Linked DNA regions of Homo sapiens. The protein of the gene in region 2 purifies or fractionates together with the protein of the main gene of each other region. This does not show direct contact. Each region holds a gene or a part of one and is shown on either strand. Other genes may lie near its edges.

Region 1 (3,831 bases), on a different chromosome or scaffold from region 2:
TACTTAATAAAAATAAATGGCCATGTCACTGGTTTATATATTTATTATACTATACTATTTATTACTATTCAAGTTATTTTAGAGTGTACTCCTTCTACTTATTTAAAAAAACATTAATTATCTGACAGCCCCAGGCAGGTCCTTCAGGGGGTATTCCAGAAGAAGGCATTGTTATCATAGGAGATGACAGCTCCATGCCTGTTATTGCCCTTGAAGACCTTCTAGTGGGACAAGATGTGGAGGTAGAAAACAGTGATATTGATGATCCCAACCTTGTGTAGGCATCAGCTAATATGTGTGTTTGTGTCTTCGTTTTTTAAAAGAAGTTTAAAAAGTTTTAAAAACATTTTTTAATAGGAAGAAAGGTTACAGACTAAGGATATAAAGAAAATAGTTTTCTACAGCTGAATACATGTTTATGTTTGCAGCTATTACAAAAAAGTAAAAAGTTAAAAAAATTTTAAATGTTTATGAAGTTAAAATGTTACAGTAAGCTAAGGCTAATTTATTATTGAAGAAATAACATTTTAAAAAATAAATGTAGTGTAGTCTAAGTGCAGTGTTGATAAAGTCTACAGCAGTGTATGGTAATATCTTAGGTCTTCAAATTCACTCACCACTCACTCACTGACCCACCCAGAGCAACTTCCAGTCCTACAGTTCCATTCATGATAAGTGTCCTATTCAAGTGTACAATTTTTACCTTTTCTACTGTATTTTTACTGTACCTTTTCTATCGTTTCTACTGTATTTTTACTCTACCTTTTCTGTGTTTAGATGTGCTTAGATACAAATACATGAATACTTACCACTGTCTTACGAGGGAGGGAGGGAAAAGAAGGGAAAGGGAGAGAGAGAGAGAGAGAGAGAGAGAGAGAGAGAAGAGAGCCATCCAGAATAAAACAAAGCAAATATAGCCAAAATGACATTTGGGGAATGTAAGTAAAGGGTATATAAAAAATTTCTGTATTATTCTTGCAACTTTTCTGTAAGACTGAAATTATTTCAAAATAAAAAGTTTAACTAAAGAACTTATTTATGTAACCAAACACTGCCTGTTCCCAAAAACCTATTGAAATAAAAATAAATAGCTTAAAAACAAAATAGAAATAAAAAACAAGATCATTTCAGCTAGTGATAAGTACTAAAAGGAAAATAAAAAATGGTAATACTACAAAAAATACCTGGGATGGGGTGTGGGGACTGTAGCATAGTCCTTAAATTGGGAAGTCAGAGAAATTAACATCTGAACTAAGACCTAAACTAAAAATAGAAGCCAGCCATCTGAAGATTTGGGCAAAGAATTCCAGGCAAAGATATTCCACATGCTCTAAGGTGAAAATGCACTCGTGACTTCAAGATACAGGTAAAGACTAAATGCATGTGAAAAATTGTTCAATGTTATTCATAATTTAAAAATTAACTAAATAGTTGAGTCACTTCATTTCTTAAGAGATGGCAAAGAACGGGTCCAGGGGGTACCAATATCCAGTGGGTACCCTGCTTTTCCAGATGTCAATTTCCCAGCATAAGAAATTTTAAAACATTGACACCAAGCAATTCTTGTTTGAAAGTTTATCTTAAAGAAATAATCAGAAAGGCAAAGATTTATGAAAAAGGTTGTAATATTATTTATTTATAGCATAACACTGGAAACAACATAAACTGCCATTACTATAGGAATGCTGGAAGAAAACTATGATACCTCTATATGGGAGAATTCTATGCAGCCATTGGGCTTATGACATAAAGTTAGATAAAAATGTATACAAACAAAAAATGGTATCTATATCCATCTCTTATAAAGAAAATATTATCTAAACCAACACTGGGACAAGGAAATGCCAGTTACCTTGCCTTAAGATGACAGGATTATGATTTTTTTAATATTATGGAATTATGATTTTATACTAACCTTGCTAAGTACATTTTTTGAAATTTTTCTAATTTTTTTTACAATGGGCATGTTTTTCATAGACATTTATAACAGAAATATCCAAATATTGCCAAATATCAAAAACTCATAAATTAGAAAAACTGTAGCACGGTATCCTTAATTTACCAATAACTATACATTTTCTATCCACATTCAACTCTAAATACTAATCCAACTCTAAATACTGCAATTTCAGGATTCTTTTCCAAGGAATTTAATGATCCCAATTTTCTGTACTGAACTTATGAATGGAGTTCAAGGGTGCTGGGACCTTTGATAAACAGGAGATGTTTCTGTGGGAGGGAGAAGGCTGCAGAGGAGGAAATTTCTTTGAATTGGAAAAAATATGTTATTTTCTGTAGCTTGTTCTTTTAGAATTCATCCTCAGGTTTTCTAAAAGCTTCCCTGTCCTGTTCTAGGTAGGTTGTTTTGATAATATTTTTGATATTCAGTGAAAGGATGGGTAAGAATTATATTCACAATTTCAAGTGCCAGCTATAAAATTCAATTACTGCTCTATCAATGATGAAATCCATTCATTCATACATTTATTGAGAAAGGGTCTCATTCTGTCACCCAGGCTGGAGTGCAGTGGTGTGATCATAGCTCACTGCAACTCCCAACTCAAGCGAGGCTCAAGTGATCCAAGCAGCTGGGACTACAGGTGCACACCACCACTCCCAGCTAATTCTACTGTTTCATTTTTTTGTAGATGCAGCATTTCGCTATGTTGCCCAGGTTGGCCTTGAACTCCTGGCCTCAAGAGATCTTCCTGCCTCAACCTCCCAAAGCACTGGGATTATAGGCATAAGCAACTATGCCTGGCTTCAAATACATTTAGAATTATCAACATTAGAAATTTGATATAAATATATCATCTCTTTGTTTCTCTTCATAAGTGAGACAATGTAAATGTGTATATAACTGAAAATACTTTTTAAAAGAATCATTAAGGATGACTTGACTGTTTGTTGCTTGAAGAAGTGTGGTAATGCAGAAAGAACGGACTTTGGAATAAAATAAATCTAGGCCTCATTACTTTCTAGCTAAGTGCCTTAATTAAACTTGTTAACACCTTTGAACTGCTGTCTTCTCTTTGAAAATGGGGATACCTCACCTGCTACTGTGAGAATTAGAGCTAATGTAAGTTAAGTGCTTAACATATGCTTGAATCATCGCAAGTACCCGAAACCCAAAACAAACGAAAGACAAAACTTGACTGAATTTCCCCCTTTCTTCCAGCCCTGATTCCATGCTTCATATTTAAGTTCTACATCAGGATTTCTCAACCTTGGCATTATTGACATTTTGGGTTGGATAATCTGATTCTTAGCAGCATCTCTGGCTTTGTCTACTAGATATCAGTGGCGCTCCACTAATTGTGAAAATAAAAAATGTTTGCACACATTGCTAAATGTCCCCTGGGCTTCAAAAGTGCCCCAAGTTGATGACCACTAATCTATATAGACGACTAAAATATACAAACGGCATTTAATAGGGCCAACCAAAACAAGTGATCTCATTTTTCCCAGACTACTGAAAGCCAGTGATGGGAAGGGGAGAGGTAAATATTCCATTTTATATAAGGAATCTGTTTATTTCATGAAGGATTATTATGAAGGGGTTTAAAGCCCATGTCTTTGACTACTAAAATAATGTATTTTGACCATTATCTTAGTGGTCAAAGATTTGGATTTTAAAATTTGACTGTCTCCATTTAAATATAGGTTGGACAAGTTAACCTCTCCAAGCTTCAGTTTCTTCATCTGGGTTATTATGACTGTTACATGGATTAAATGCATAATACAGGTAAAGTGCTAAGCCCAGTGTCCGATATGTTGCAAGCACTCAATAAATGTTGGCTGTTCTTATTATAATCTAGGTCCTCTTTCCAA
Region 2 (3,831 bases):
ATGAGCTTTCCCTCACTGCTTCCCTGGACCAGAGGGAGCTAATCACAGTTCTCTCTGTTGTCTCTCTACCTCATGCCTACTCCTATGGTTGCACTTAGCAAAACTGAATAGTAATCACCATGTGGTGAACTTCTTAAAAGGAAGACTATAATTCCACTATCTCTACTCCTCAATGACTATAGCATTGGTCAAACCAAAGAATGTGCTACAAAACATAAAAATTGAGATAGGAATCTGGACATGACTTCTTCTCTGCCAGTAGAGTAGTACCTGTTAACCAAAACCTGAAAATAACAAATAATGTATTTATTTATCGAAAAAAAAGGATATTGAATTTCTTTATTATAAGCTGTTTCCACTATTTCAATATCCTGATATAACCTTTTAAAATCTTTCATAAAGTTTTTTTCTCTTGAACATACTATCAGCAATTTGTTTATTGATTTTTTTGTTCTACCTTTTATAACAAACAAATTATAAAATGTGTTATAGCACCACAGAGAACAGAGGAAACTGTCTCTGATTGTTTAACAATAGCTGTGGAATATGCTGTCCAATCAAAAGATTTGCATTGAGGGCCACATGCTGTGAGTGCAATTTTTATAAAGGGAGAGAATGAGAAGTTGAATATGCGCCACTCAGTGTTAGTAAATCAGCATTTTCCCTCTTTATTTTCACATCTCCACCACAGAACTTCCCTGTATTTACTTCACACAGGCTCATCTAAGCTAAGGGCATCTTCCTAATTAAGGTTAGAATAGCATGACAACAATAATGACATCTTACATCTATTACATCTACCTAGCCCTATATGGAGCACTGTTGCATCTTATCTGTATAATAAACTTAGGGGACTGTTTTCTGTATACTTCACCCTGATAGCTCTCTAAGCATGCCTAATTCTATTAATCCCTTGAGTCAATCCTATTCCAGATCTCTGGATTTCAACTCTAGCCACCCTTCTCTAATTTTCTCATCCTTATCCACTCCATACCACTTCTAGTTACTTGTGGTAGAGATGGTGTCACAGAGATGTCTGACCATGTGTCATCTCCCACTGTTAACCACAACCCTCATAGAGAAGGCATCCTTTCTTCTTTCATTTTAACAAGGTGTTTAATTCTGGTCTTATTTTACATTTCTGCCCTGAAGGAGCTGGAGAAAAAAAAATGGTTAATTCATAATCTCCTGAAATAGAGCTTCATGTGGAGCAGTCACTCTACATTGAAAGTTTATTTTCTCTGCGAAAGGACTTTTATTACAAGATGATAACAAGCACAAATATGGAGGTAGAGTTGCTCAGATGCAGAAGGGAAACCAGATCAGCTGAGAAAATGGCTTTATTCAGACCTTCCAGAGAAATGTGGAGAGCAGGTGAGGTGGGAGCAAAAGAAGTTGAAGAAAAGGAGAGGCTTCTATTTTTCAGTGACTTTCTCATGTTTAAAAATTTATAAATAAAATAGTTATTGGCAAGGCCAGGGTACCAGATTGTGGTCAGGGTAAGTGGGTTGCTAAAGAGAAGGCAAGGAACACAGAGCTGAGATCAATGAGCTATGAGGATAGGTATTGGTGGGACAAACACATGAATGTTGGAGTCATCCAAAACTAAGGTAAGAGCTGACATTAAGAGGAAGACTAACAGCAGAGTGAGTTTTCAGAAGAGGAATCTCCTAGAAGCTGCTAAATGACAGCAGCAAAGTTGGAAAGACACAGTTGAGCTAAATAGTATGGACCTCACATGAGAGGCGTGCATGAGGGTTAAAAAGGAAAGAAAGAAAGAAAGAAAACTTTGGCTTGAGAAAGTATCTAAAACAAAGCTAAATTAGTCCTAGCTTTGCTGCTGATGAATTTTATGATCTTGAGCAAGTCATTTTGTTTTATTTTTCTGGGCTTTTGTTTTCTCATTTGTAACAAGAAAGTTTCCTAAAGTCTATAGTAGATGCTACACCTTTATCTTAATCATGAATTTCATTTTAATCTTATATTACTAGGTTTAGGGTCGAAAATCTGTATCCAATTAACTGGCTTCTTGGACTTGCTTAATATTCATCAGCTGAGAAGAAGTCATCGCTTTGGTGGCAGTTTAAGAAAAACAACTGAAATGTATTTATGGGTACCATCTTCTTGTTCTTTGAAAAGCTGCTGTGAGGAATATAACATGGTAGTGATTATAATTCCCATTTTACAAATGAAACTGAGATGTGCATGCATACAGTATTTCCCATATGTTTTGTGCATTTTTCAAAACAGTAATTAAACATTTTCTTTTTAACCCATGAGCCTATAACTGTCTATATATTTACATGTCTCTTCCAACAAATATTAGTAGTAATAATAGTTATTATTATTGATTTTTATTACTTTATGTGTTACTAGCACCAAGAAAAATATGTGATGCATAATAGTCACGTGTTTATTTATAAATGTCTTTATTAGAAGGCAAATTAGTTACTAGGTAATCAAAGAATTTCTGCCTATCAAAATCCTGTGCTTCTACTACAAATTAAGGCTTTTACCTGGATATTTAGATAATTGCCTTGAATATTTAATTTGTTGGCTATGAAATAAATAAAATAGATAATCCTAAAATTGATAATTGGAGATTTCTGAGAAGCAATTCTCTTCATAAAAACATTAATGTTCTATTTGGTACTACAATGCCTTAAGTTTAAGAGAGTAAAGCTTTCTGGAATACAGAAGGTAATTAAAATTATAATTTCTCATGTAAGTTAAGATTTTAAATGTTGTAGACATTCATAGAGAACAATTAAACAGGAAAAAGTAGCAAATATTTCTATATAATTTTAGAATCTAATGATAACTCTCTGTTGCATAAGACAGTGACATTTTGACAAGGCTTTATGCCTTGTCTTGACTCTGGTTTTCAACTACAGCTTCTCTGAAAATTGACAACTTTCTCCTACTGACATGCTGTTTCCAACATATATCAGAACAGCATGTGCCATGAGTTTTTTTAGTGGTTGTAGGTGTTCACCAAACTATTCTTTTCTGGATGTGGTTCCCCAGCCCTCTGTGTTCTTAAAAAAGTGTATGCCGAAAACACGACTTTTGATAAGTCTCTTTGTGAACCCATCACTCCAGTCACTGCCCAGTTACTGAAAATCCACAAAGCAGTTATTGTATATTAGCTCCCTATATCATAAGGGCAAAAATTTTAATACTTGTAGAAGGATGGCTACTGCCAAGCCACACGGTAGAAACATAAAATGGAAGCTGCCATCACCACCTACCCTATGAAGGACAGCTTCTTATAAAATTTGCAGCAAGATAAACGTAGTCACAGGGTGATTGTGTGGCAAAGGAATCACAAAGAGTTCAAGTTTACTCAAAATAATGAAAGTGTCATTTTTTTCGTCTTTGGATTTCACTCTAATTCTATGCACATAATAGCTGTTTGCTAAATACTGATTAATGACTTTAAAAATGAGTTTAATAAATCCAGCCAAGATATAAAAGAAAAAATAAAGATAAAAATTTTTAAGTATGGCAATTTGTGGCCATTTTGAGTAATAATAAATGGCCTTATATTTTTTTAACAGGCTCCAAGATTACCACCATATTCCAGCGCAAGGTAAAAATTTATGTTCACGATAACTTGGTATATTCAAGGAAAATGTCCATTAAATTGAGCACTGTCTTTAAAAGAAGTTAGGGGACCTTACAGTAGTGTTTGCAAAGATCACCTCATAAAATGTTTTAAATGTAAATGTTGGTGTTTAAAGAGACCAACTCTCAAGTATAAAGTAGACAGCTAGAGAATCAAGGTTATGGATAAACAAGGTTTTACTTGGATATGAACACTTGTTAAAA

Evidence for each region.
Region 1: the proteins of GRM1 (region 2) and HOMER1 purify together in Homo sapiens (affinity purification with western blotting, with the first as the bait; one study listed by BioGRID). This does not show direct contact.

What each region holds. Positions count from the first base shown.
Region 1 is NC_000005.10:79,392,107-79,395,937, forward strand, and holds part of HOMER1 (homer protein homolog 1), read right to left. Parts: intron 1-3,831. UniProt on the Homo sapiens protein: Postsynaptic density scaffolding protein. Binds and cross-links cytoplasmic regions of GRM1, GRM5, ITPR1, DNM3, RYR1, RYR2, SHANK1 and SHANK3.
Region 2 is NC_000006.12:146,035,433-146,039,263, reverse strand, and holds part of GRM1 (metabotropic glutamate receptor 1 isoform alpha precursor), read right to left. Parts: intron 1-3,831. UniProt on the Homo sapiens protein: G-protein coupled receptor for glutamate. Ligand binding causes a conformation change that triggers signaling via guanine nucleotide-binding proteins (G proteins) and modulates the activity of down-stream effectors.